Regions from separate parts of the Homo sapiens genome. Here all the other regions are linked to region 1. Evidence: fine-mapped expression QTL. A gene starts in region 1. Each other region holds a variant in brackets. All regions are shown on one strand. Distances are between the middles of the regions. Region 1 holds the start of FAM177A1 (family with sequence similarity 177 member A1). Region 2 has its middle 37 kb from the start of BAZ1A. Region 3 overlaps PPP2R3C (protein phosphatase 2 regulatory subunit B''gamma). Region 4 overlaps PPP2R3C (protein phosphatase 2 regulatory subunit B''gamma).

The links. PIP is the estimated chance that this variant, and not a neighbour inherited with it, causes the effect.
Region 2: its variant is the best candidate, but not a certain one, in a credible set for the expression of FAM177A1 in cerebellar hemisphere (GTEx, PIP 0.74).
Region 3: its variant is the best candidate, but not a certain one, in a credible set for the expression of FAM177A1 in whole blood (INTERVAL, PIP 0.57).
Region 4: its variant is the best candidate, but not a certain one, in a credible set for the expression of FAM177A1 in skin (TwinsUK, PIP 0.71).

Annotation. Positions count from the first base shown.
Region 1 is chr14:35,042,772-35,050,228 of GRCh38, reverse strand. FAM177A1 (family with sequence similarity 177 member A1) reads right to left here and starts at 3,957. Exons shown (of 5, transcript NM_173607.5): 1 at 3,601-3,957. The coding sequence starts at 3,765. RefSeq lists enhancers at 3,088-3,147, 3,248-3,517, 4,238-4,437 and a silencer at 3,768-4,117.
Region 2 is chr14:34,908,397-34,915,853 of GRCh38, reverse strand. No RefSeq gene overlaps it. Among named protein-coding and RNA genes, the nearest start is that of BAZ1A, 37 kb to the right of the region's middle. The variant C/A (reference allele first, on the strand shown) is at 4,120.
Region 3 is chr14:35,110,675-35,118,131 of GRCh38, reverse strand. PPP2R3C (protein phosphatase 2 regulatory subunit B''gamma) reads left to right here. Exons shown (of 13, transcript NM_017917.4): 2 at 1,395-1,522. LOC101927178 (a long non-coding RNA gene) reads right to left here. Exons shown (of 5, transcript NR_110415.1): 5 at 5,002-5,268. Among named protein-coding and RNA genes, the nearest start is that of PRORP-PSMA6, 7.4 kb to the left of the region's middle. RefSeq lists an enhancer at 4,802-5,583. The variant A/T (reference allele first, on the strand shown) is at 4,233.
Region 4 is chr14:35,102,445-35,109,901 of GRCh38, reverse strand. PPP2R3C (protein phosphatase 2 regulatory subunit B''gamma) reads left to right here. Exons shown (of 13, transcript NM_017917.4): 4 at 1-83; 5 at 1,666-1,763; 6 at 2,528-2,598. LOC101927178 (a long non-coding RNA gene) reads right to left here. Exons shown (of 5, transcript NR_110415.1): 3 at 7,173-7,221. Among named protein-coding and RNA genes, the nearest start is that of PRORP-PSMA6, 16 kb to the left of the region's middle. RefSeq lists a silencer at 7,006-7,173. The variant AT/T (reference allele first, on the strand shown) is at 3,238.

The sequences.
Region 1 (7,457 bases):
GAGACCACCCTGGCTAACATGGTGAAATCCCACCTCTACTAAAAAAATACAAAAATTAGCCAGGCGCGGTGGAGCGTGCCTATAATCCCAGCTACACAGGAGGCTGAGGCAGGAGAATTGCTTGAACCCGGGAGGTGGAGGTTGCAGCGAGCCGAGATCGCGCCATGAACTTCAGCCTGGGCAACAGAGTGAGATTCTGTCTCAAAAAACAAAAAAAGTTACACTGTGAATTTTCCAAATGCTTCATTTTATAAATCTGCAAGTAAGAAAAATTTCACTGCCAATTATGCAAATTCCATAACGAACCCCAAAGATCTGAAAGATAGTTTCATAACACCAGGAAATTATGAGGTACCATGTCAATTAACATTTTACTCCATTTTATAGTTAACCAAACTATAAATGTGCTTATCTTTATTCTCAGGATCTGTTTTTTTCTTTTTTGAAAAGGAGTCTTGCTCTGTCATCCAGGCTGGAATGCAGTGGTGCGATCTTGGCTCACTGCAACCTCTACCTCCTGGGTTTCAGCGATTCTCCTGCCTCAGCCTCCCGAGTAGCTGGGACTACAGGCGTGAGCCATAATGCCCAGCTAATTTTTCTATTTTTAGTAGAGATGAGGGTTTCATCACGTTGGCCAGGCTGGTCTCGAACTCCTGACCTCAAGTGATCCACTGGCCTCAGCCTTCCAAAGTGCTGGGATTATAGGTGTGAGCCACTCTGCCCAGCTCAGGATCTGGTTTTAATGGCAATTTTTTGTATATACTCCCATGGCACCCAGACTTCTTTAAAACACATACTAGACTTAGAATTTATTCTTTGTCATCTTCCCCAACTAGGCTATTAGCAACATGGGGGTAGGTACTGCTATATCTTTCAGCCTAGAGTTCCTGGCACATAGTAAGTGCTTGGTAACAGAGGTACCAAATAAATCAATCACTGAGTGGTACTGAAATTTTAACTCCTTTAAAAACATTGAGGCTGAGATTCTGGTTAAAAGTCTATTCAGAGAAGCTGCTGGATAGAATGTCACAACAGGAGGCCGGGTGCGGTGGCTCACACCTGTAATCCCAGCACTTTGGGAGGCCAAGGCAGCAGGTGGATCACAAGGTCAGGACTTCAAGACCAGCCTGACCAAGATGGTGAAACCCCACCTCTACTAAAAATACAAAAATTAGCCAGATGTGGTTGCGTGCGCCTGTAGTCCTAGCTACTCAGGAGGCTGAGGCAAGAGAATTGCGTGAACCCGGGAGGTGGAGGTTGCAGTGAGCCAAGATCATGCCACTGCACTCCAGCCTGGGCCACAGAGTGAGACTCCGTCTTAAAAAAAAAAAAAAAAAGAATGTCACAACAGGTACTGGATGGCCTGTTTGGAGGCCTAATTCTAGACCCTATCTCCTATCTCTTACTCCCTTTCCCTACATTGCACTAGGGATTTCTCAGTTCTGCCAAACTTGGGAAGAAGTGTAAGATAGAGGCCTCTCCATCTCCTGAGATGTCCACTTCCCTGTTACTGTGCTCAACCCCCTGGGCATAGAACTGGAGTTCCCAAAGATGTTTCTGATTCAGGAATGTGAATCTGAAAGCACAAAGGGCAAATCAGAAAATGGAACTCATTGGTGTTTAACAAGAAAGAAGAGATATTTAATATTTAATAATATATATAATATATAAGAAATATATAATATTGAATGATAAAATTCCAGAGAGACTACACCAAAACTTAATAGTTACCTTTGGGGAATGAGAACATGAAGAAAGGGTGGTGGTGGGGTATTCCTGTGAATTTTTATCTTTTGTTCTACAGCCTTCTTTACTGGTTAAGTACTTATTTGTTAACCAAGAATGTGAAAACAACAGAATATCACTAACCCCAATCAAAGAGCCTCTCACTTCAAACAACATTTAGCTGGTATATAAGTACACGTGTGTTTACTTTGCTATTAGATCCAGGGCGGAGGTAGTGATTTTAAAAAAACAATTCTAGTAACAACAGGAAAAATCAAATTGAAAAACATATCAAGCACCATGGACTCAAAGGTTAAGTGTAAGTGCACTTGCCAACAATAGGTCTCAACTCAACTGAAAATGACGTGGCTTCCTTATCAATTCATGTTGTCCCCTGAATCCCCTTCTTAAGTAGGAGGGAAAAAACGTATTCCATATAGAGTTTGGTATGTGGGAAAGTTGTGTTTTTTGTTTTTGGGGTTTCTTTAGTTTTTTATTTAAGAGATGGGTTCTTGCTCTGTTGCCCAGGCTGGATAAGCTTTTGTTAATGCAAACGACATCTTATACTATAAGAGATACACAGAGATATACTCACAGTTTGGGGGAAATGTCTTACTAACATTCAGGTACTTAGTCTCAAAAATGAAGCTACTGAAAAAGCTTCATTCTCATGGAGGATGGGAAGAGTTACATACATGAGCAACTCAAGGGTTTTTTTTTTGTTGTTGTTGTTGTTGTTGTTGTTGTTGCTGTTTTGAGACGGAGTCTCGCTCTGTCTCCAGCCTGGAGTGCAGTGGCGTGATCTCGGCTCACTGCAACCTCCACCTCCAGGGTTCAAGCAATTCTCCTGCCTCAGCCTCCCGAGTAGCTGGGACTACAGGCGAGCGCCACCACGCCCAGCTAATTTTTGTATTTTTAGTAGAGAAGGGGTTTCACCATGTTGGCCAGACTGGTCTTGAACTCCTGACCTCAGGTGATCCACCCGCCTTGGCCTCCCAAAGTGTCTTTTTGTCTAATACTGAAAAGTTGCAAGAAACGTTAACTCTCTAAACCAGCGCTGTCCAATACAGTAACCACTAGCCACATGTGGCTAATGCGCACTTGAAATGTGGTCAGCCAGAACTGCGATATGCTATGCGTGTAAAATGCACCCAGGATTTAAAAGACTTAGAAAAGACTCCAAAAGAGAATGCAAATACTTCATTAATAACTTTCATAGTAATTTTAGGTTGAAATTGTTTTGATAAATTAGGTTAAATAAGATATGCTATTAAAATTAATATCGGTTTCACTTTTTTAAAACGTGCCTACTGGAAAATTTTAAATTACAATTTTCAATGCAGCTTGCATTCTATTTATGTTGGACAGCGCAGCTCGGAGCCTTAGTTGCCTCGGCGGTGAAATGGGGCTAACACCCACCTCGAGCGGTTACTGTAAGGATCCAGTGAATTAAAGCTGGTAAACGTTTGGCATATGCCAAGCAAAGGGCAGATGCCCAGGCAGGCGCTCGCACCAGAAGAGACTGAGAAGTGGTTGAAGCCGCCCTCACCTGGCTTCCAGCTACTGCAAGGACAGCCTTTGGGGGACACGCCTTTCTTCTTCCTCTGGTAGACCAGAAGCTGGACTATCACCCCAGGAACCCGAGGCCGCCCCAGAGTCTGCTGTGCTGCCAGCCAAGGGGTTGGTGAGTGAGGCGGGGGGCGCTCCTTCCCACAAGCTGGTCTCAGTGAGCAGAAACAGGGGTGCAGTGAGGAGGAACTCCAAAGCTGGGGCGGCCTGCTCGGAGGACGGCCGCGCAGGCTAAAAGAGCGGCCCGCGGAGAAGGCAAGGAGGCGGCTCGGCTCCCCGGACGTCAGCCTCGGCGGCCCCACCTACCTGCCCTGCAGATTCCCCGAATGCCGCGGCGGCCGCAGCTCCCGAGGCTGCGACGGCTTCTCCTCGTTCCACACCGCCCACTGGCTCCTGGTCCATCGTCGTCGCCACCACAGGGCTGCTGGCGCTGGTGAGAAAGAGGGTAATGGCCGGTAAGCCCACTTCCATCCTTGGTCTCCCCGCCCAGTCGCTGGCCGAGCCAGGCTGTCGGGAAGTGGGACTCACCCGCCCAGCGCCCGCCTCGCGCCGCGCCTAGCCAAGTCTCTGAGAAGGGGACTCGCCGGCCTGAGGGGCGGGGCCAGCCCGCGCCTCGCCTAGCCCGCCGGGCTCCGCACCCCGAGAGCTGGCCAACTGCAGTCTGGGAGGCGCAACTACCGGCTCGCGCGGGGCGGGGCGGGGCGGGGCGGGTCCTTGCGGGGCGTCGCTTCCGGCCAAGCAAGCATCCAGAGCTCGTGGATCCCCGCCTGGCACCGCCTGTGACGTCATTTCTGGTACGTGTACCTGAAGCCTGGCGTCTCGACCTCGGCGCAGCCCGTCACCAGCGGCGTCTGGGGCAGTCACCCCGCAGGACCTCGGTTTTTGCACTTGTAAAATGAAGACAGCTGTGTCGTTGTACTTCAAAGGCTAGTGATGGGATGTGGTTGCTGAAAAATGTAAAATGTACGGCTCGTGCTGCACTTTCCATTCCAAACGTGGGTGACAGTCCAGCCAAAATACCCTCGAAAGAAGAACCCCAGGCGTGATATTTGCTTACTCTTGTCTGAAATACTTAAGTATAACTGTAGAAAGTGTTAAGTGAAAAGACCTGAAGGAGAGCAAAGGGCAGTAGTAAGCTTCCATCTTGACAAATGTAAGGAATGTTTTATCTGTGTCTTAAAGTCGTGTGCGTATGTTAGAGGGGGCGTCCCAGATTTTTTCCGTCTTTCGCAATGTTCAACGAAAGTAAAAAATCATGCAATTACTGCATGACTTCAACATCAAACAAGTCTGAGGTTCTGCAGGTAAATGGTATATTGTTGTTTTAGCATGAAAGTTTTCACAAATATGTAGGGGGCAAAACCAAAACATACATTATTTTGGCTATGGGAGGCTTCATTTGATACTTTAAATTCCATTTTCATACTAGTCTCAATTCAGAAATGCTCCCTAAAGTTGTATGACCTTGTAAATGTTTTTCATCATAGCAACAGCAGGCCCAAATATTAAATATTCCTTTCTCTTCTGTGCCAAAGTTCTTCTCCTTACCCTCTGCCTAATGTTATTGTACACTTCCTATTCTATGTATAACTGGAACCTAAAAACAAAACCAAAAACTTTAAAAAACAAATAATCATTTGAAAACCATCTACGCCTTAAAAACTAGTTGGAAATCCATATTGCTCTCTATCCTGGTAATAAAATCAAGTTAGGTTGCTGCTGAAGTAAACAAGTTAGTACCTGATCTGACTCTGTATGGTGGCATCAGCAGGGAGTTGAGACAGTCCAAAACAGCAAAACCAAACTCGGCCATAAATTGAAAACAAAAATAAAGAACCAATTGTTAAGACTTCATGAATTGGCATTCATAAACAACACAGTTCTGCATTATATGTATTCAAAATCTCTTCCTTCTTACTGGCAAGCAGGGCAATCAACAATCTTTATTACTAAAACTTTGTGGGATATTTATAAATGCATGATTTTATTTTCCAAAGTGGCAATTAAATATCAAATTACAATTTTCTTTTTCTTTTTTTTCTTTTTTTTTTTTTTTGAGATGGGGTCTCACCCACGCTGGAGTGCAATGGCGCAATCTTGGCGCACTGCAACATCCGCCTCCCGGGTTCAAGCGATTCCCCCACCTCAGCCTGCCAAGTAGCTGGGATTACAGTTGTGCACTACCACGCCCGGCTAATTTTTGTATTGTTAGTAGAGACGGGGTTTCACCATGTTGGCCAGGCTAGTATCGAACTTCCGACCTCAGATGATCCACCCACCTCAGCCTCCCAAAGTGCTGGGATTACAGGCGTGAGCCACCACGCCTGGCCTCAAATTACAATTTTCATTGCCGAAGCAGAATATATTTTCACAGTTTACATGTGTATTTCTTAGTTTACTGAAAATTCAAAGTACAAGTTACATTCTAACGTGAACTGGAAGTATTTCCTAAAAAGTTATTTTTAACACAAATATCCAATTGAAGAGCAGTTTATTACAAATCAACAACTCGGGCTGGGCACGGTGGCTCACGCCTGTAATCCCAGCACTTTGGGAGGCGGAGGCGGGTGGATCACGAGGTCAGGAGATCGAGACCATCCTGGCTAACACGGTGAAACCCCGTCTCTACTATAAAATACAAAAAATTAGCCGGGCGTGGTGGCGGGCGCCTGTAGTCCCAGCTACTCGGGAGGCTGGGGCAGGAGAATGGCGTGAACCCGGGAGGCGGAGCTTGCAGTGAGCCGAGACCGCGCCACTGCACTCCAGCCTGGGCGACAGAGCGAGACTCCGTCTCAAAAAAACAAAAACAAAACAAATCAACAACTCAAAGCAACATAAAAGCATAGAAATTCTAATGGTTTTATTTTGGACATTTATATTTTTGTCATTATTTCCAAACTGTTATAGCTCAACCAAAAGTAGGCACCAAGGCAATGTGCCAAATTTTTCCTTCTTTCACTTTGTAACATAAATTGTATCGTAGCACTATGACAAAAATAAATTCAAGTATTATGATAATTTATCTACTTGAAAACATAATGTGGTCTAAATTTATCATTTAATGATACATATAGAGCTAAAAAGGTAAATTTGGATTGAACCATTTCTGCGTAAGGCTGGGAAAATAAATCTGAATAAAATTTGATAACCAGGAATGTTCATCAAATAAACAAGACATTCTTAGGGTTTTAACATAGCTACATATATATACTTTGATAGAGAATTTTTTAAGTTATCCATCAAACAGGACAATATATTTTCATCAAAAATAATGCACAAGAAAAAAAGATGATAAAAATAAAAATGCATTTTAGGTTCAGTCTAAGCATAAAGAAATTTTTTTTTTTTTTTTGAGACAGGGCCTTACTGTATCACCCAGGCTGGAGTGCAGTGGCACAATTATGGCTCACTGCAGACTCAGACGATCCTCCCACCTCAGCCTCCTGAGTAGCTGGCGTGTACCATCACACCTGGCTAATTTTTATATTTTTTGTAGAGATGAGGTTTTGCCATGTTGCCCAGGCTGAATAAGTTATTAAAATCATGGTAGTGGTTTCACTTATGGAGCACAATATGCCAGGTACTTTGCTTTCTTTGTATTAACTCTTATTCCTCACAACAATTCTGAAGTATTACTGTAACTACCAACATGTTATAGATGAGGAAACAAAGAGAAGTTAAGCAACTTGCTCCAGTGACGCAGCTGGTAAGCAGCAGAGCTGGGATTAAAACCCAGGCATTCTGATTCCACCACCTACACACTTAGCCATTCCGCCCCACTGAGAATGAAAATGTCAAAAAATACTAGGCCAGTAAGTGTTAGCAAGGCAAGAAATTTCCACACCAAAGGTGAGTATGTTGTTTGGAAAGATTGGGATGGAAATGAGTAAAGTATGTTTCTTTTTAAAAGTCTTTTAGTAAGCTTTAAAGCTCTATATGTAAGAAGCAGATGAAAATACCAAGTGAATTTTTAGATTTGATGTTATGTAAGGTTTTGTTTTGTTAATTAAAATTTGGTCATTTTGTGTGTGTGTGTGTCTGTGTGTGTGTGTGTGTGTGTGGTGAGAATATACCAGTGATATCCAATCACCAAAATTTTCTTTTTTTTTTTTTTGAGACAGTCTCACTCTGTCAGCCAGGCTGGATTGCAGTGGCGTGCTCTT
Region 2 (7,457 bases), 130 kb after region 1:
GAGAATTGCTTGAACCCGGGAGGCAGAAATCGCAGTGAGCAGAGATCGTGCCATTGCACTCCCTCCTGGGCAACAAGAGCGAAACTCTGTCTCAAAAAAAAAAAAAAAGAATGTTGACTCTGATCAGTAATTCTACAAGAAATTAAGAAATTATTATCACATTTGGCAAAGGGAAAGTTGTTTAGTTAGCACTAAATAAGGTGGTGGCAGGACACAGTGGTCACGCCTGTAATCCCAACATTTTGGTAAGCCAAGGCAGGCAGATCACATGAGGCCAGGAGTTTGAGACCACCACGTGGCGAAACCCCATCTCTACAAAAAATACAAAAAATTAGCCAGATGTGGTGGCACAGCTACTTGGAAGACTGAAGTGGGAGGATCACCTGAGCCTGGGGAGGTCGAGGCTGCAGTGAGCTGTGATGGCGACACTGCACTCCAGTCTGGGTGACAGAGTGAGACCCTATCTGAAAAATAAAATAGCTGGGCACAATGGCTCACACCTGTAATCCCAGCACTTTTTGAGGCCGAGGAGGGAGGACTGCTTGAGCTCAGAAGTTTGAGATCAGGGTGCGCAAACATGACAAAACCCTGTCTCTACAAAAAATTTTAAAATTAGCCAAGTGTGGTGGTGTGAGCCTGTGGTTCCAGCTACTCGGTAGGCTGAGGTGGGAGAATCACCTGAGCCCAGGGAGGTCAAGGCTGCAGTGAGACCTGATCGAAACACTGCACTCCAGCCTGGGCAACAGAGTATGAGACCCTGTCTCAAAAATAAATAAATAAAATAAAGTGGTAAAGACATATTAAAATTAGTGCCCCTTATGTGATTAAAATATATCATCACTATCATTGTTTTGGAAAGTTGAGAAGTATTAAATATCAGTATTTTACGAATCATGGTCATTTTTCCTTTGTTGAATGTTCAACATACATTTTTTAAAAAAGAAGTCTAGGCTGGGCACAGTGGCTCACGCCTGTAATCTCAGCACTTTGGGAAGCCAAAGCAGGTAGATCACGAGGTCAGGAGTTCAAGACCAGCCTGACCAACATAGTGAAACCCAGTCTCTACTAAAAATACAAAAATTAGCCAGGCGTGGTGGCACACGCTTGTAATCCCAGCTACTCAGGAGACTGAGGCAGGAGAATCGCTTGAACCCAGGAGGCGGAGGTTGCAGTGAGCCAAGCTTGCACCACTGCATTCCGCGTGGGGGACAGAGCGAGATTCCATAAAAAAAAGAAGTCTATTGAAACCATTTTTCTAGCAAACAAAAAAAACAAGTTTAGAATAGTTTTACTAGGAAACCTTTATCTTCAGCAGGATACAGGCTAAAAAAATTTTTTTAATAAAAAAAAGGAAACCTTTATCAAAATTCTCACTAACCTTATAGTGAATAGAAAGTATACGTTAAGAAGTAACAAAAGATATCTGAAGTCTAAAAACAACTCACCTGCCAACAAATTATATGATCTTGGACAAGTCACTAATCACTGCTTAATCATTGTTTCTTCATCAGCAACCTGGAGGTAATAATGCATCTCCAACCTAGCTGAGATGGAAGTTTACATACAGTAAAATAATGGATGAGTAAGTGCTTTGGAAAGCATTGCATGCTGCACTTATAATTATTGTTGTTAATAAAGATAGTTTTAAACAAAAACCATGGTAAGGAGAGGGAGAAAGACAAATTGAGAGATATATATCTATATATCTTTTTTATTATTTATTATTATTATGATACTTTAAGTTTTAGGGTACATGTGCACAACGTGCAGGTTTGTTACATATGTCTACATGTGCCATGTTGGTGTGCTGCATATCTTACATTTATACATATCTTACATTCATACATATCATATGTACATATATATACATATGATATGTATAAATGTAAGCCTAACACAAGATGGACAATAATCAAGAAATTTTAATTATTTTTATTCTATCCTATTAAACTAATTATTCTTTTTTTTTTTTTTTTTTTTTTTTTACAGTAGAGACCAGGTTTTGCTGTGTCACCCAGGCTGGAAGGCAGTGACACAATGATCATAGCTCTCTGCAGTCTTGAACTCCTGAGCTGAGTGATCCTCCCACCTTAGTCTCCTGAGTAGCTGGAACTAATAGGTGCGCACCACCATGCCCGGCTAGAATAATTATTATTGTCCTATTTAAATATTATTTTCATACTTGAAACAATATTTTCCTGTGGTTTAGCCCTACTCAGATATTAGTGGAAAGCAGCTGACACATGTAGTCCAAACCACAGTTTCATTAAACTAATGAGAAACTACCAGTCTATCCTTGGAATCCTGGGTTGTTCCAGAGGCGTAGAGTAGGATTAGCACAGATCTAAGGGACTCAAGCGAGTGGGGGTTCCTTATCACCAAAACCGTAAATGTATTATAGATTCTCCTGGGAGTTCTGCTACGTTTCAGATAGTATGTGCTACCAGGGGATTCCAATTAGCATAAGCATAAGAAGTAACAGGACCAAACTGGGTTTTTTGTTTCACTAGAATTATCCTTTCCTGGGCATTTTCTGGAATTTAAGTACGACCCGATGATACATTAGATAACAACTGATCAGATTAGATGCCCTAAACGTCCCAAATCATCAGGGACTAGAGATTGAGTTACGATTGTCCCAATAGTATAAATTTGTGGTTTTGTGGGTTCAGTCTAGGTCCTGCTGCTCGCTACACAGAAAGCCAATGACTGAGACAACGGGTATTGCCAAGGCAAAAGGCTTTGACCAGGTGCTGCAGTGGAGGAGATGGGAGTTCAGTCTCAAATCCATCTCCCCTGCCGACTAAAATTAGGAGTTTATATAGCAGGTAAGAAATATAACAATGTGTAGGAAAACAAGAACTCGGGGAAGGTTAAGGAAGCAATCATGATGAATGAGGGGCCTGGCCTCTCATTGGATGAGATGATCCAGTGAGTTTCAATTATTTGATACTTTCCCAGAGGTCTGGGGGTCCTTTCCTGAGGAAGTAACTCAGATAAAATAAATGTAAGTTTCAAGCTTTAAGACCAGAAGTGTCAATTTCTATAGATAGATAGATAGATTTTTTTTTTTAATAAAATCTCAAACTCCTGGGCTCAAGTGATCCACCTGCCTCAGCCTCCCAAAGTGCTGGGATTACAGGCATGAGACACCGTGCCAGCACATCCAACATTTTCTAATCTTCCCACATTTCTGACCCTTCGCCTACACTTCCTTACTTTTCATCAACTGACCTGAAAACAGATGTCCTCAGATAAAACGCGTCTTAACTTCCTCAAATTAAACTAATTCAATATATATAATTTCACTTCCCCCAGTCAGCACCTTTCTTCCTATTTAACAGTTACCTGTGTTCTTAATTCCATTTTAACCACCTTGTGCTATCTTAATTATTCTATTCTATTATTTATCATCCTCCTCCTCAGTATACTTCCTCTTAGTTGGATCTTACTATCTTTTTTTTTTTTTTTTGAGACAGGTCCACTGGAGGGCAGTGGCGTGATTACAGCTCACTGCATCCTCGACCTCCCAAGCTCAAGCCATCCTCCCACCTCAGCCCCTCAAGTAGCTGGGACAACAGGCACCAGCATGCCCAGCTAATTTTTGTATATTTTGTAGAGAAGGGGTCTCACCATGTTGCCCAGGCTAATCTCGAACTACTGAGCTCAAGCAATCTGACCACCTTGGCCTCCCAAAGTGCTAGGATTATAGGAGTGAGCCACCACGCCCAGCCTCCATTAGCATTTTAACCTACTTAAGTTTCTGCCATCAGCACCACAAACAAAACCAGAATATTCTTTGACCTTTTATCTCTCTCAGCTACTGCCCTGTTCTTCTCACCTAACCTTCTTGAAAGAATTGTATACACTCACTATTCTTCACTTCCCACTCATTCTTTGGTCCACTGCCAGCTGCCTTTGACCACTAACATTCCTCTACAAGGCCACTAACAACACCCGAGTCTCAGAAATCCAATAAACACTTTTAAAAAAATTGAGATATGATTCAAATTTCATAAAATCTCATAAAATCCTATAAGACTCACCTTTTAAAGTGTATAATGTATCTTTTAAAGTGTACAATGCAGTGTTTTTTAGTATATTCATAAATTCATTCAA[C/A]TATTACCATTTAATTTCAGAACATTCTCATCACTCCTGTATCCATTAGCAGTCACTACCAATTCCCCCTCCCTACAGCCCTTGACAACTGCTAATCTATTTTCCACCTCTACAGAGTTTCCTATTCTGGACATTTAATATAAACTGAATCATACACCATGTGACCTTTTGTGACTGGCTTCTTTCATTAAAGATAATGTTTTGTGTATTTATTTATTTTTAGCTATACCTACTGGAATGGGATTTCTTTTTTAGTATAATGTTTTCAGGGATCATCCATGTTGTAGTACGTATCAGCACTTCATTCCTTTTTATTGTGCAATAATATTCTGTTGTGCGGATATACCTCAGAGTGGTTATGCTATTTTGTTTATCCATTCATTAGTTGACGGACATTTGGGTTGTTTCCACTTTTTGACTATAACGAATAAAGTTGCTATGAACATTCAGGTACAAGTTTTTGTGTGGACATATGTTCTCAATACTCTTAGGTGGAATTGTGGAATTACTAAGTCATATGATAACTCTGTTTAACCCTTTTCGCCTTTGCCCCAAGAATACCTGCCAGCGGTGCTTGCAGCTGCAGCATTTACTCCAAGATAACCTTGCCACAAAATATTGTTGTATTATTAATACATGAGTAAGCATATTAATATTTATTATTATTTTTGCATTGCTCTAGTGTATTGACTTTGGAAACAAAAACATTATTCTATTTATAGTATTCTGTTTTTAGTTGTATTTCCGTTTATAAAATATAGTAATTCTTGATCACTGAAAATGTCAAATCCTAAAAAACGTAGCATCGTTCTCAAACAGTTGTTGGCTGAAGATTCATTTGATGGATCTGATTTTTCTGAAATAGACGATTTTGATGGTTCAGATGATTCTGATGTTAGTTCTGTTTAGAAATAACTCCAAGAACAGTTTTTATATTTTATTTTCACATGAAAATCAGTCAGATTTTCTTCAGCCTCAAAGAACATGTTTAAGTAAAATTAAATGAGTGCTGGCATCGAGCTGTGTTTTTTTAAAATCTAAACTGGAAAAGGGTTAAATTTTGAGAAAGTGCCAAACTGTTTTCCAAAGCACCTGCACCATTTTACACTTCCACTGTTAATATACAAGAGCTCAAATTTTACCAACACTTGTTATTATCTGAGTTTTTCTTCCCAGCTGATCTAGCAGGTATGAAGTAGTATTCAATTGTGGTTTTGAAGTTGGATTTTTCTAATGATTAATAATGTTGAATATCTTTTTATGTGCTTATTGGCCATTTTTATATCATCTTAAGAGAAATGTCTATTCAAGTCCTTTGCCTACTTTTCACTTGGGTTTTTTTTTTTTTTCTTTTTTTTTTGAGACGGAGTTTCGCTCTTGTTGCCCAGGCTGGAGTGCAGTGGCACAGTCTTTGCTCACTGCAACCTCTGCCTCCCCAGTTCCAGTGGTTCTCCGGCTTCCACCTCCCGAGTACCTGGGATTACAGGCATGCACCACCACACCCAGCTAATTTTTGTATTTTTATTTTTTGAGATGGAGTCTCACTCTGTCACCCGGGCTGGAGGGCAATGGCATGATCTCGGCCCACTGCAACCTCCGCCTCCTGGGTTCAAGCGATTCTCTTGCCTCGGCCTCCTGAGTAGCTAGGATTACAGGCATGCGCCACCACGCCCGGCTGATTTTGTATTTTTAGTAGAGACAGGGTTTCTCCACGTTGGTCAGGCTGGTCTCGAACTCCTGACCTCAAGTAATCTGCCTGCCTCGGCCTCCCAAAGTGCTGGGATTACAGGCGTGAGCCACCATGCCCAGCCTGTATTTTTATTTATTTATTTATTTATTTTGAGATGGAGTCTCGCTCTGTTGCCCAGGCTGGAGTGCAGTGGCATGATCTCAGATCACTGCAAGCTCCACCTCCTGGGTTCATGTCATTCTCCTGCCTCAGCCTCCTGAGTAGCTGGGACTAGAGGTGCCCGCCACCACGCCCGGCTAATTTTTTTGTATTTTTAGTAGAGACGGGTTTCACCCTGTTAGCCAGGATGGTCTCGATCTCCTGACCTCGTGATCTGCCCGCCTCAGCCTCCCAAAGTGCTGGGATTACAGGCGTGAGCCACCACGCCCAGCCTGTATTTCTATTTTTTGAGATGGAGTCTTACTCTGTCATCCAGGCTGGAGTGCCGTGGCACAATCTTGGTCCACTGCAACCTCCACCTCCTGGGTTCAAGCAATTCTCCTGTCTCCGCCTCCCAAGTAGCTGGGACTACAGGCACACACCACCACACCCAGCTAATTTTTGTGTGTTTTTTTTTTAGTAGAGGTGGGGTTTCACCATACTGGCCAGGCTGGTCTCACACTCCTGACCTCAGCTAATCCACTTGCCTCTGCCTCCCAAAGTGCTGGGATTACAGGCATGAGCCATCACGCCCGGCCTAAAAGCTTTTAATTTTTCTGAAGTCCAATTTATCTATTTTTTCTATGGTTGCTTAGGCTTTAGGTATTATATTTTAGAAACTATTGCCTAATCCAAAGTTACAAAGGTTTTGTTGTTGTTGTTGTTTTGTTTGTTTTTGAGTTGATTTCTCACTCCTGTCTCCCAGGCTGGAGTGCAGTGGTACAATCTCAGCTCATGGCAGCCTCCACTTCCCGGGCTTAGGTGATCCTCCCACCTCAACCTCCGGAGTAGCTGGGACTACAGGTACATGCCACCACACCAGCTAATTTTTTTGTATTTTTAATAGAGACGAGGTTTTGCCATGTTCCTGAGGTTGGTCTCAAACACCTGTGCTCAAGTGATCTGCCCATCTCAGAAGTGCTAGGATTATAGGCATGAGCCACCTCACTTAGGCATGAAGATTTATACCTATTTTTTATTCTAATACTCTTGCAATTTTAACTCTTACATTTAGGTCTTTGATCTGTTTTGAGTAAATTTTTACATATGGTATGAGGTAGGGGTCCAACTTTATTATTTTGCATGTGGACATCAAGCAATTCTCCTGCCTCTGCGTCTGAGGAGGTGGGATTACAGGTGTGCACCACCATGCCCAGCTAATTTTTATATTTTTGATAGAGACGGGGTTTCACCATGTTGGCCAGGCTGGGACTCCCTCCTTTTAAAATACTCTTTTTCTGTGACTCTGCTCAATTACCTGGCATCATAAGAATTATGCCTGCTTTAGAGATTATACAAAGCATACCCATAAATAAGTGCATGGTATCAGTATGCCTTAGTAGAATAAACACTGCCATAGGAATTATTATGAGAGGTGTTTTATGTCATTTTCTGTAAACAGTTTGGTCATATACTTTGTTGATCTTTTGTGGGGAAGGAGCTTGTAGAT
Region 3 (7,457 bases), 68 kb before region 1:
TGCTATATTGTTAACTTCAGTGGTCAGTTGTCAGTCTTGACTTTGCTTGAAAAATTTTGCAGTTTTCTACAACAGCACTGAGCCATAGTAAAGAAATTAACTTATAGGTTTGGTCTAAGGTTAAAAATTAACATAATAGGCCAGGCATGGTGGCTCATGCCTGTAATCCCAGCACTTTGGGAGGCCGAGGTGGGCAGATCACCTGAGGTCAGGAGTTCAAGACCAGCCTGACCAACATGGAGAAGCCCCATCTCTACTAAAAATACAAAATTAGCCAGGCGTGGTGGCACATGCCCGTAATCCCAGCCACTCAGGAGGCTGAGGCAGGAGAATCCCTTGAACCTGGGAGGCGGAGGTTGCCGTGACCCGAGATCGTACCATTGCGCCCCAGCCTGGGCAACAAGAGTGAAGCTCCATCTCCAAAAAAAAAAAAATTAACAGATGCAGCAGAAATGCAGTCATAAAAGGAATTCAAGGAAACAATTACAGGCTTGTTGGGAAGGAAATGAGACCAGAAAGAGTAAAATAACTTTTGAGAAAATAGATCACAGAATTCAAGAGCTCAGTGAGGCTGAAGTGGAAATGGTATGGCAGTGAGGTTTTGAATTACCAGAAAGGATGATCTGAGAGTATATTTGAGCTTAAGATTTCAGAAAGGGATCAAGTAAAATCTGTGATCTTGTCATAGAACCAAATGGCAGAATGAACTAGAGGTGAAAGTCTTTGGAGTTGCAGGACCCATGGTCACCCACATAAATGTTTATTCATCCTAAATGATTGCAGGACCTTGTGAAGAACACTGTGTACCAGTCACCATAGTCCACAAATAAGTGGGGAGGAATTGGCTGAATGAGACAGCCACGTGCCAATAGCAGGCGAGTTGCAGGGTAATAGAGCCCTGAGTTTTGAGCTTCAGACAGAGGATGAGTTTTTTTGTTTGTTTTCTCTACATTAGGTAGAGAAACAGTGATTATGAGGCTGAAACTCCATGAGGTCAGGGGCTGGGGCTGTCTTGCTCACCCCTCATTCCGTGTCTACTACAGCGTTCTCTGTACATAGTAGGTGCTCAGTAAATTCTTTTCATTGAATGAATTAGGAGCACTCTACAGAGTTCTGTAGGAGAGGTAATTTGAGGAAGAGACTAGCTTTAGCGATAAACAGAAGTAGAGGGAGCATGAGAAATGGTTGAAGATGTAGAGGAGGCTGCTTCAGTAGAGGGTAGTGATTCTTGGTATTTCAGAAAAGTTAATATGCTCAGTGTCTAAGCACAATTGTGAAGGCCTTTTTGGCACTGCAACTATTTTAATTAAACTATTAATATAATATATAGGATGACCTGAGTAAAAGTACTGCTTGATTTTAAAAGTGCTCCCCTTAATCTGTTTTGTTACCAGAAAAAAAAAGTGAACAAGAATTAAAAGATGAAGAAATGGATTTATTTACAAAATATTACTCCGAATGGAAAGGAGGTAGAAAAAACACAAATGAATTCTATAAGACCATTCCCCGGTTTTATTATAGGGTAAGTAGTGTCTAATCAAATGTCCTGCAGAGTTTAAAAATGAAATATAATTTTTGGCAAGGCAGGGTGGCTCATACCTGTAATCCCAACACTTTGGGAGGCTGAGGCGGGAGGATCACTTGAGTCCAGGAATTTGAGACCAGCCAGGGCAACATAGCAAGATCCCATCTCTAAAAGAAATTTTTTAAAAAATAGCTGGACATGGTGATGCATGCCTGTAGTCCTAGCTTCTCAGGAGGCTGAAGCAGGAGGATTACTTGAGCCCAGGAGATCGAGGCAGCAGTGAGCCGTGATTGTGTCACTGCACTCCAGCCTGGGTAACAGAGTTAGACCCTGTCCTCCCCACCCCCAGAAAAAAAAGTAGTTTTAAAAATAGGACCAGAATTTTATGTTTTAAAAATAGAGAATTATATTTTAAATTTTATATATTATTTTATTGTAATTGATCTTATCACTATTATAAAACATTTTGAGCCCAATAAAATCCCAAGTTTAGATTTAAGTGGGTATGTAAACACAAAGTTGTTAAACTGTGGGCTTTTTCTTTCTGATTTTTATTATAGATATTAGTAGTAAGTATTCTATTGGATTATGTTATCAGGTATACACTTTGTTATAAAGTTTTAAAATTTTGCTCAAGGCTAAACCGAAAAATAGATTATGGAAAACCTAAAGAATTTCACTTGAGGCCAGGCATGGTGGCTCATGCCTGTAATCCCAACACTTTGGGAGGCCAAGGTGGGTGGTGGATCATGAGGTCAGGAGTTCGAGACCAGCCTGACCAACATGGTGAAACCCTGTCTCTACTCAAAATACAAAAATTAGCCAGGCGTGGTGGCGCGCGCCGGTAATCCTAGCTACTCAGGAGGCTGAGGCAGGAGAATCACTTGAACCCAGGAGGTGGAGGTTGTAGTGAGCCCAGATCGCGCCACTGCACTCCAGCCTGGGTGACAGAGCAAGGCTCTGTCTCAAACAAACAAACAAAAAAGGAATTTCACTTGATTATTTTTTCCTTGTGCCAAAACTCTGAAAATGGCTATGAAGGGACGTATAGACAAAATAGACCTTAAGAAAAGCTATTCATGGTAGGGTCACTGCACTCCAGCCTGGGTGATAGAGCAAAGACCCTGTCTCAAAAAAAAAATGTTGGCCAGGTGTGGTGACTCACACCTATAATCCTGTCACTTTGGGAGGCCATCAAATCAGGAGGATCACTTGAGGCCAGGAGTTTGAGAACCAGTCTGGGCAACTTGGTGAGATCGTGTCTCTCCAAAAAAAACTTAGCCGGGCATGGTGGTGCGCACCTGTAGTCCCCGCTACTCAGGAGGCTGAGGTGGAAGGATCGCTTGAGCTCAGGAGCTTGAGGCTGCAGTGAGCTGTGATCATGCCACTGCATTCCAGCCTGGGTGGCAGAGCAAGAGCCTATCTCAAAAAAAAAAAAAGAAAAAGAAAAAAAAAAAAGCCGTTTACAACCTGGCAATGGTAGGGCAATTCGCCTGTAGTCCCAGCTACTCTGAGAGGGTGAGGAAGGGAGAATCTCTTAAGCTCAGCAGTTTGAGACCAGCCTGGGCAACATAGTGAGACCACCCCACACCCCATCTTTTTGTTTTTTTTTTGAGATGGAGTCTCACTCTGTTGCCCAGGCCGGAGTGCAATGGCACGATCTCAGCTCACTGCGACCTCTGCCTCCCAGGTTCAAGTGATTCTCCTGCCTCAGCCCTCCTAAGTAGCTGGGATTATAGGTGTGCGCCACCACGCCCAGCTAGTTTTTGTATTTTTAGTAGAGACCGGGTTTCACCATGTTGGCCAGGCTGGTCTCGTACTCCTGATCTCAGGTGATCTACCTGCCTCGGCCTCCCAAAGTGCTGGGATTACAGGCGTGAGCCACCATGCTGGCCCATCCCATCTTTTTTTTTAGAGGTCTATTTTTTTTTCTTAAGGTCTATTTTGTCTATTTAAAAAAAATAAAAATAAAAAGCTATTTATACCTGAAACTGAAATCTACTGAAAAATACCTATTTAGTATTATACAAGTTAACTGGAATCTTAGCTGGATGTTCCTTGAACCTATTACCTTCTAACTCTATTAATTACAACGTTATTTGCAAGTATAGTAAACAATGATTTAGCTGGTGTTCTTACAGATTAAGGTATTTATATAAGTGAGTTATCCAGATACTGAAATATTTCTTCAAGTGCAAATTTTTTTCAACCGAACATTTTTTATTGGAAACCTTCCTATAATACTATATACTTCTCAACCTTTTAAGAATCATATGCCTGTAATCCTAGCCTATATTTATTGTAGAAAAGGAAAAAATATGGCTAAACAAGTTGATCTCTTCCCATGACAACATCACCCAACAATGTAAACAGAACATTTTATATGAATCTTTCTACATATTTCTGTGGGTATCTGTGTATTTTTTTAAATGGGATTACATCATACATACCTTTACTGCTTTTTGCATTTCACACTCTCCTTAAACAGAGGCAGCTAAATAACTGAATATTTTTGATAGCCGAGGGGAGAGAGAAGGGAATTGACATTTATTGAGTGTCTAAGCACTGCAGAGCCCTTTGTATTCTTTATCTCATTTAACCTGGATTCTTAAATAATATGTTACTGTTATCGAACATAGGTTCTTGGGTTCTCAATGCAAAAGGGAGAGAGAGCACCTGACTCTGAAAAGAGCTGGTAGGGCTTTTT[A/T]AAAAAAAATCAGGAATTGATATTAGGGTGGGGTATGCAGGCTGGGCTGGGCAAAGCAGATCAGGTAGGGTATGCAGGTCAGCATTGTCTGGTTGCTATGGTTATCTTGAGCAGCGGGCCACCTGGTCTGGCTAGAGGCAACAAGGCTGTAAATCAGTTGTTCAGCATTCCTTCCCCAGATAGGACACTCACTTCACAACTTTGGTTATCTCCTAGTTACTGGAATTCTTTTGAGTAAAAGGCATGGTTTGGACATTATGGTGTCAGTGAGGTAGTGGTGTGGGTTTTGTGATCAGTGGGAATGCATGAAAAGAGTGCCATAGTGGGAGTGAGCTGACCCAAGCCCCCATTCCTACTCTGTCTCATTCCTAACAGCTCTTGGATAGGAATGGTGTGACCCCGTTCCTGAGCCCAGGACTGAACTTTCTTGTACTTCCGGGACCAAACCTTTGCCTTCTTTTTCTGGTTCCTGAGGGAATCTCCTTTTTTTCCTTTCTTCGTGTCACTTCTCTCTTTGGCCACCTCTAGATCTTAGATGGTCTCCTGTCTGCAGCTATGGATTTGTAAAAAAGTCCTTTCCCTTCTTTCTTCTTCCTCTCCATGGTCCCACTGCTTCAGAGAAAACACCTATTATCTTGAGTCACCACTTCTCTCCTTGGCTGATTAGCTGGTTAACTAGCCACTAGAACACAATGTCAGTCACCCCCAACTCCAGCCCCATCCCCATCTCCTAATGTTTCTTCTGTTGACGAAGAGTTGAACTCTGTAAAATATTTGAAGAGATTTATTCTGAGCCAAATATGAGTGGCCATGGCCTGTGACACAGCCTTCAAGAGATCCTGAGAACATGTACCAAAGGTGGTTTGGGTGCAGCTTGGTTTCATACATTTTAGGGAGGCATGAGACATCAATCAAATACATTTGAGAAATACATTGGTTTGATCCAGAAAGGTGGGACAATTTGAAGTGGGGCTTCCAGGCTACAGGTAAATTCAAATGTTTTCTGGTTGACACTTGGCTGAGTTTGTCTAAAGACCTGGGATCAAACAGAAAGGAATGTCTGGGTTAAGATAAGAGGCTGTAGCGACCAAGGTTTTATCATGCAGATGAAGCTTTTAGCTAGCAGGCTTCAGAGAGAATAGGTTGCAAAATGTTTCTTATTAGACTTAAAGTCTGTGTTGATGTTAATGCCAGAGAGGTATAACGAGGCATGTTTGACCCCCACTTCCCATCATGCCCTGAAACAGTCTCTCAGGTTAAATTTTAAGGGCGCTGACTGAGGAGGAAGTCCATTCAGATGGTTGGGGGGCCTTAGAATTTTATTTTTGGTTTATACTCCTTTAACTCTGTTCCTTCTGATGGGAGGGATGGCATCTTAGTTCCTGGAAATGAAAGATGAAAACCATAACCCCAAGTTTTGACGTAAGGTTTACCGAGGTAATTTAATGGGGCTAAGATGTAGAAAAGGAAGAAGAACTCTTTAAAGTAAATTATTCTGGCTGGGTGTGGTGGCTCATGCCTGTAATCCTAGCACTTTGGGAGGCCAAGGTGGGAGGACTGCTTGAGTCCAGGACTTCAAGACCAACCTGGGCAACATAGCAAGACCCTGCCTCTATTATTAATTTAAAAAAGAAGAAATAAAGCAAATTGTTCTAAGTCAGGTTGGAATGAATCATTCTAAAGCTCTGCTCATGGAAATCACCCCAGTTGGCAAACCCTCTTGCCTGGGAGGCCAACATAATAGGCACTGCCTTGACTGTCTCCAAGAAGAAAGGTGATCCAATCTCAACAGGCATGCTTTCCTAAAACTGGACAAGAAGAATAAATGGTTTTTGCTGGACAGGAAGAATTACAGGTAAGAACCACCCAACAGGTTCTTCTTGCCTGCTACCCAGATAGAGCCAATTTATCAAGATGGGAATTGCAAGAGAGAAATAATTTCATATACATGGAGACAGCTAAATGGGAGACAGGAGTTTTATTATTACTCAAATCAGCCTTCTTGAAAAGTTGGAGGCTAGGGTTTTTCAAGGATAGTTTGGTAGGCAGGGGCTAGGGAATGGGTACTGCTGATTGGTTGGGGATGGAATCACAGGGATATAGAAAAACAGTCCTGGTCCTTGCGTGCTGAGTCTGCTTCTGGGTTGGGGCCACAGAGGAGTGGCTGGTCTGAGAGGGGCCATTGGGTAGTCAGAAGTGCAAAAGCCTGAAAAGACATCTCAAAAGGCCAGTCCTGTGTACTACAATAGTGATGTTATTTACAGGAGTAATTGAGGATGTTGCAAATTTTTGTGCCCTCTGGAATAATAACTGCTAATCATTTAACTGACCTGCATCTTAGCAGAATTCTGGTCCTTCGCATCCTCCTGACCTGGTGTCCTTTCATTAGTTTTACAAAGGCAGTTTAGTTTTGGGATGAGCTATTATCATTTAAATCATAAACTAAATTTCTCCCAAATTTATTAATATCTTGGCCCATGCCCAGGAATGACCAAGGGCAGATTGGAGGTTAAAAACAAGATGGAGTTGGTTAGGTCAGATCTCTTTCACTGTCATCATTTTGTCACTGTTATAATTTTGCAAAGGTGGTTTTGAAATTGTCAATCTCCAGTTAATCCTCATTTAATTCTTCTATATCATTCTTTTTTTTTTTTTTTTTTTTTTGGTAGATGGAGTCTCGCTCTGTTGCCAGGCTGGAGTGTAGTGGCGTGATCTCAGCTCACTGCAACCTCCGCCTCCTGGGTTTAAGCAATTCTCCTGCCTCAGCCTCCTGAGTAGCTGGGACTACAGGCACATGCCACCATGCCCAGCTAATTTTTGTATTTTTAGTAGAGACGGGGTTGCACAGTGTTGGCCAGGATGGTCGATCTCTTGACTTCATGATCCGCCTGCCTCGGCCACCCAAAGTGCTGGGATTACGGGTGTGAGCCACTGCCCCCAGCCAATTCTATATCATTCTAAGGAAGCCAGCATGCCCAGCCAATTCTGTGTCATTCTAAGGTGACAATAGAAACACAGTGCTTTAAGAAAATAAAATGAAACTTGGTCTAGACTAGCTTTTAGAATGGCTTTTTCAGGGCAGAGATCCAGCCTTTCTGATCACCGATTCTCTGTGGATCAGTTTTTGTTAAACAAATGTTAAGCACAATTAAGGTGAGATACAAGAAATAATTCGAGGCGGTGGCATACAGTTATTTTATGAGGCCACATACATTTTATAGGATC
Region 4 (7,457 bases), 60 kb before region 1:
ACACCACCTATGATTGGAGAGGAAGCGATGATCAATTACGAAAACTTTTTGAAGGTTGGTGAAAAGGCTGGAGCAAAGTGCAAGTAAGAATAATATAATTAACAAAAGAATGTGTTATGTTAAGCATTTTAAATGCCTCAAATATTGGCTGGGCACAGTGGCTCACACCTGTAATCCCAGCAGTTTTGGAGGCTGAGGTGAGAGGATTGCTTGAGCTGGGGTGTTTGAGGCCAGCCTGGGCAACTTAGGGAGATCTTGTCTCTACTAAAAAAATTATCTGGGTGTGGGGGCGTACACCTGTAGCTACTCCGGAGGCTGAGGTGGGAGAATTGCTTGAGCCCGGGAGGATGAGCTGTGATTAAGCCACTGCACTCCAGCCTGGGCGATAGAGCAAGACCTTACCTTTAAAAAAAATAAACAAATCCTCAAATATTAAATGAAGTAAATGGAATGACATTTGAGTCCATTTAAGTTACTAATTAAATTTAATAAAATTATTTACAGTCAAAAAATCACATTGGTATGAAGTTATTAAAATAAATAATATAGCCAGGTGTGGTGGCTCATGCCTGTAATCCCAGCACTTTGGGAGGCTGAGGTGAGCGGATCACGAGGTCAAGAGAACAAGACCATCCTGACCAACATGGTGAAACCCCGTCTCTACTAAAAATACAAAAATTAGCTGGGCGTGGTGGCGTGTGCCTGTAATCCCAGCTACTCAGGAGGCTGAGGCAGGAGAATCGCTTGAACCCTGGAGGCGGAGGTTGCAGTGAGCCGAGATCGTGCCACTGCACTCCAGCTTGGCAAAAGAGCAAGACTCCATCTCAAAAAAAAAAAAGAAATAATATAGTTTATGACACTTTCAGCCTTAAGACAGACGAAAGCAAACAAAAAAGAATGCAAGGCCAGGCACTGTGGCTCACGTGCCCATCTCTGCAAAATAAAAAAAACTTTTAATTAAAAAAAAAAAGAATGCAAACATTTATGACTTAGGCTAGGCATGGTGCCTCACGTTTGTAATTCCAGTGCTTTGGGAGGCCAAGGCAGGTGGATCACTTGAGGCCAGGAGTTCGAGATCAGTCAGGGCAACAGAGCAAATCTCTGTTTATATATATATATTTATCTTTTTTTTTGAGATGGAGTCTTGCTCTGTCGCTAGGCTGCAGGGGAGTGGCGCAATCTCAGCTCACTATAACCTCCGCCTCCTGGGTTCAAGTGATTCTCCTGCCTCAGCCTCCCAAGTATTATTGTATTAACAAAAGAATATGTTAAGCATTTTAAATGCCTCAAATATTGGCTGGGCCAATATAAATACAATATAATACAATATAAATACCCAATACAAATACTTTTTGTATTTTTACTAGAGACGGGGTTTCACCATGTTGGCCAAAATGGTCTCGATCTCTTGACTCATGATGTGCCTGCCTCAGCCTCCCAAAGTGCTGGGATTACAGGCAAGAGCCACTGCGCCTGGCCAAATCTCCATTTCTTTTAAAAAAAAAAAAAAGTTTGACTTAATATTTTAAGTTTTTGAATTATAAGGAGTCTCTATTGTTCTTTCATTTTTAATTGTATGAATTTATGCCATTGTTTGCTAATTTATGTAGAAGTCATTTTCTTTTATGTTGGCAGATCATTTAAATCTTTATTTTCTTTTCTTAGGCAATTTTTCACAGCAAAAGTCTTTGCTAAACTCCTTCATACAGATTCATATGGAAGAATTTCCATCATGCAGTTCTTTAATTATGTCATGAGAAAAGGTGATTCATTTTTACTGTGCTTGAACTCCTTATCTGGGAATCAAGTAGGTTTTTGGTCTGTGCTTTTATAAGTATTTCTTCTATGTGAAATCACTCTAAGTTTGAATAGTAGAATTTCTTATCTTTTGACCAAGATGTGTTACATAAACTTGGGTTAGCATAAAAAAACAAAAATTTTTTAAACCCTCATGTGTCTTAAAGATAATAGTAGACTAGAAATATTAAGAGCTGAACCAAGAGTTTTAATGTATGGTAATTTGAAATAATTTTAATTTACTGATAATTTTATTTTACCAGTATATTACAAGTTGAGTTGACTGATAGTTTCAAACCCAAAGCTGTAATATCAGTTTCAAGGAGCATCAATTAAACAGCTTGGACTTATGATTCCTACAAGTGCCATAATAATCTGTGAAAGCCTATTGTATACAATCTTTAATAATTGGTTGCTGTAATTAACCTCAGAAATAAAAGCAGCTTCACTGAAGGCATAATATTATACTAGCTGTCCCTGTTTGGTGGAACACCAAGTTTAATTGGTAAAGAACAGTATCTTCAAGGTGTCAATTTTATTATAGCTTTAGTCATGGTAGAATTGTTGAACTCTTCCATTCTATGGTTTTTTGTTTCAAGCAATTTTGTGGTGAGAAGAAATGTTTTTAGAGTTACTAGATTAGCTTGTCTCAAATCTGGCTCTTTATCTCCTTTTTCATATCTGAAGGATAGATCTTAAGAATTACTTTCATTTTCTTGTTTATTGTCAGTTTGGCTTCATCAAACAAGAATAGGACTCAGTTTATATGATGTCGCTGGGCAGGGGTACCTTCGGGAATCTGTAAGTGTTAACCTTATAGATATTATATTAACTCTTATAGACACTAAAATGTAAACTGTAGTTATCACTGGGTGTTGGGATTACAGGCTGTTCTCATAATACTTTGTTTTATTTCTGTCTGTGTGTGTTTGTGTGTACATATTTAGTTTTACTGTAACAAAGCAACTTGTACACTTTCAACTTTTAAAATTGAACATCATCTTTCCAGTGAAACAAAAAACAAATTTAAAATAAACAAAATTACAATAGAGAATGTCAATTCCAAATAAGATCCTACAGGTTCTACTGATTCTCCCATGGAGTAGCAGCCTTCAAGTCATCATTAAGAGAGAATTTATGCTGGGTGTGGTAGCTCACACCTGTAATCCCAGCACTTTGGAAGGATGAGGCAGGCGGATCACCTGAGGTCGGGAGTTTGAGACCAGCCTGACCAACATGGAGAAACCCTATCTCTACTAAAAATACAAAATTAGCCAGGCTTGGTGGCACATACCTGTAATCCCAGCTACTTGGAAGGCTGAGGCAGGAGAATCACTTGAACCCAGGAGGCAGAGGTTGCTGTGAACCGAGATAGCGCCATTGCACTCCAGCCTGGGCAACAAGAGTGAAACTCCGTCTCAAAAAAAAAAAAAAAAAAAA[AT/T]GTATTGGCTGGGTGCAGTGGCTCACGCCTGTATTCCCAAGGCCTGTACTCCCAGCACTTTGGGAGGCTGACGTGGGCGGGTCACCTGAGGTCAGGAGTTTGAGACCAGCCTGACCAATATGGTGAAATTCCATCTCTACTAAAAATAGAAAAATTTGCTGGGCTGTGGTGGTGCATACCTGTAATCCCAGCTATTCAAGGGGCTGAGGTGGGAGAATCGCTTGAATCTGGGAGGCAGAGGTTGCAGTGAGCCGAGATTGCACCACTGCACTCCAGCCTGGGCAACAGAGGGAGACCCTGTCTCAAAAAAAAAGAGAGAGAGAATTTATTTTAAAGGTGTCATTTTAAACTGCAAGGATGCCCCTTAAAAATCACAATTAAACATGCCAAAGGAAAAGCAACGTTGTCAAAATGCTCACTTTAAACTATCAAAACGTTTCAAACCTACCCTTTGCTGACCTATAACCCCATTTTGTAAAATTTATTTTCTTTTTTTAAATAAGAGACAGTAGACAAGGATGCCGGGCGTGGTGGCTCACGCCTGTAATCCCAGCACTTTGGGAGGCCGAGGCGGGCGGATCACGAGGTCAGGAGATCGAGACCATTCTGGCTAACACGGTGAAACCCCATCTCTACTAAAAATACAAAAAAAAATTAGCCGGGCGTGGTGGCAGGCACCTGTAGTTCCAGCTACTTGGGAGGCTGAGGCAGGAGAATGGCATGAACCCAGGAGGCGGAGCTTGCAGTGAGCCGAGATCACGCCACTGCACTCCAACCTGGGCGAAAGAGCGAGACTCCATCTCAAAAAAAAAAAGACACAGTAGACAAGGAGATGTTGGTAAATGCTAACTGTCCATATTCACATAGAGACATAGTATACTCTGCGCTCAATAGAGGAAAGCAGCTAGAATTCTATGCACGACTACACAAGGGCCTAGCACCTTCCAGCTTCCAGCAGAGCAAAGGGAACAGGTTTTTCTTTTTTTTTCCATAGACCTCGGTGGTGTTGATTCCATATAGTTTTTGTTGAGACACAGGATGTTTCCGTTTTGGGGTTTGGTTTTTTATTTTTATTTTTTTTAACAAATGACATGTGTTACTAAACAAATGTTTAATGTATATTGACTATACAAATTCCTTTTTAGATTCTTTTTCTTCAAACTTTAAAAAAAAAAGGCCTTTTGGCTGGGCGCGGTGGCTCATGCCTATAATCCCAGCATTTTGGGAGGCCGAGGTGGGCAGATCTTGAGGTCAGGAGTTCAAGACCAGCCTGACCAACATGGAGAAACCCCGTCTCTACTAAAAATACAAAAATTAGCCAGGCATGGTGGTGGCCACCTGTAATCCCAGCTACTCAGGAGGCTGAGACAAGAGAATCGCTTGAACCCAGGAGGTGGAGGTTGCAGTGAGCCTAGATTGTGCCATTGCACTCCAGCCTGGGTGACAAGAGCGGACTGTCTCAAAAAAAAAAGCCTTTTAAAGGGGAAAATAAAAAGAATGTAGCATTTTAACATTTAAAAATCACTGAAAAACGTTTGATTATTCATGAGTGATATTAATGTGTCACTATTTTTTAAAGGGCCAAGAATTCCACCCCCCCGCTTTTTTTTTTTTAAGAAAATATAAGAGAAGCCAGACACGGTAGCTCACGCCTGTAATCCCAGCACTTTGGGAGGTGAAGGCGAGTGGATCACTTGATGTCAGGACTTCGAGACCAGCCTGATCAACATGGTGAAACCCTGTCTCTATTAAAAATACAAAAACATTAGCTGAGCATGGTAGCAGATGCCTGTAATCCCAGCTACTAGAGTGGCTGAGGCAGGAGAATCGCTTGAACCCAAGAGGCAGTTGCAGTAAGCTGAGATCATGCCACTGCACTCCAGCCTGGGCAACAGAGCAAGACTGTCTCAAAAGAAAAAAGAAAATATGAGAGAGAAAATGAATGTGACTGTATTCCCACCTCTGGGTTTAAGATTGCTAGGTCAGTTACCAAGAGGCTGCTTGTTTCCTATTAGGCACTGCTGTAATTAGGCCAAGTTATCAACAGAGAATTATAACTTCATGGTCCAAATGGCTATGCTTCTTCTGAGTATGGGTATCTAAATTATATGGACTTACTTTTCACCTCAGGCTTTTTTCCCAAATATACAGTGCTTTTTTTAAGATTGTAGGGGAGAGGGGAAGGGAGTTGGGCATGAATATAAACTAGGTTAATTAATCAAATAATTATTCAGATATAAGGGTTAAAGAAATGTAAATTTCTTGTTATAGTTCGTATGGTTCCTGCTATAATTTGTTGCATTCTGTTTTGTCTAGATTTCTGTAGATAGAATCTGTTAGCTCATTCTGAACATTTATACTGTAAAACCTTTCCAGGGGCACACTACAGTTCTCTTTAAGGTTCAGACCAACTTGAGAATAAAAGGCTCTTGCTTCTGGCAAGGAAGACATAATTAGCCACCTGCTGGTACTCGTTTAGAGGTCAGGTCCAAAACTGGAGTACTTCTCTAGCTCTGAGAATTCTTGTTAGCAGTTCACTTGATTTATAAAAACAGCAATATTGATTTATAAAAACAGTCCCCTGTTACTGCTTGTCTTGCCTCTTTCCATGGATGGAAACAAAGATTGAAAGAGAGATGAGCAAAAGGGAGAGAAAAGAAACAGTGTACTTCTATAGTTGTTTTTAAAAAGGAATAATTTTCCCCTTCTCTCAATGAAAGAAAACACTTTTCTCAAAGTATTTCTTCCATCCTTGGCCCATTGCCTTTTGAAACCCAGACTTTGTGTCTTACTAATTTGAAAGGCAGTGGCTTCCAGACCAACATTTATAATCTGAGTAGAGTATACAAAGTTTTATTCACTTATTAAATCTTATTAAGCATTTAGTAGACATTTATTTGGGGGCAGGTATTATTCTAAGCTTGTAGGGCTCATGTTTTACTTTGTGACAATCTGTTTGCCCAGATTTCTTTTTTTTCTTTTTTTTGTTTTCTTGCCCAGATTTCTGTAGATGGAATCTGTTAGCTCATTCTAAATGTTATACTTTAAAACCTTTCCAGGGACACAGTACAATTTTCATTCCCTTGTAGACCTATTTTTTCTAGCAGAGTGGGAAGACAGACACTAAATTATAAGCAGATAATATCAAATAGTGACAAGTTATATGTAGAAAATAAAACAGTAAACTAGGCAGGAATATGACTGGGATTGACAGACGATTTTAGGTAGGCTGGAAGGAGCATCTTTTTGAGATAGTGATTAAGTTTTAGCCATGAAGTACGAGAAAGAAGCCAGCCTTATGAAGATGTAGTATAGAGGAAACGGCAAATACAGTGTCTCCAAGGCAAAATTAAGCCTGGACCTGTTCTAGGAACAGAAGGAAGCCAGTGTGGCTAGAACAAGGACTATAGTAACAGAAAATGAAGTTGGAGAAGTAGGCAGGGGCCACATGTAGGGCCTTTTGGGCCACAGTAAGGACTTTGGATTTATTTTGAGGCTAACGGGAAACCATCGGAAGTTTTAAGCTGAGTCTGTCAGGATATGATTTACATTTTAAAAGATCATTCTGGATGCTGTATGGAGGATGTAAGGAACTCAAAGTACGGCCAGGCACGGTGGCTCATGCCCGTAATCCCAGCAACTTTGGGAGGCCGAGGCAGGTGGATCGCTTGAGCTCGGGAGTTCAAGACCAGCCTGGCCAACATGACGAAACCCCGTCTCCACTAAAAATACAAAAATTAGCTGGGTATGGGGGTAGGCACCTGTAATCCCAGCTACTTGGAGGCTGAGGCAGGAGAATCACTTGAACCCAGGGGATGGAGGTTGCAGTGAGCCAAGATTGAGCCACTGCACTCCAGCTTGGGCGACAGAGCAAGGCTCCATCTCTAAATAGATAAATAAATCTGGAGTATAAGCAAAATATTTAGGCACCTACCATGATAGTCCAGGTGAGATGATGGGCCCATAACTAGGGTAATTGGTGGCTGTAGAGAAAGCAAGAAATAGATTAATTCAATATATATTTTGGACTCCCCTCCTTCCCAGAAAAAACACAAATTGCTGCTAGATTGGATGTTCAGGGTAAGGAGTGTGAAGGCATTGATGAAGAAAAAGAGAAGCCAAAGACAAGTCTTAAATTTTTATTTTGAGTAACTGTTGGAATAGAGGAAAAGCAGGTGAGGACCAAGGTTGGAGATGACAAGAGAGCCCCATTTTGGAT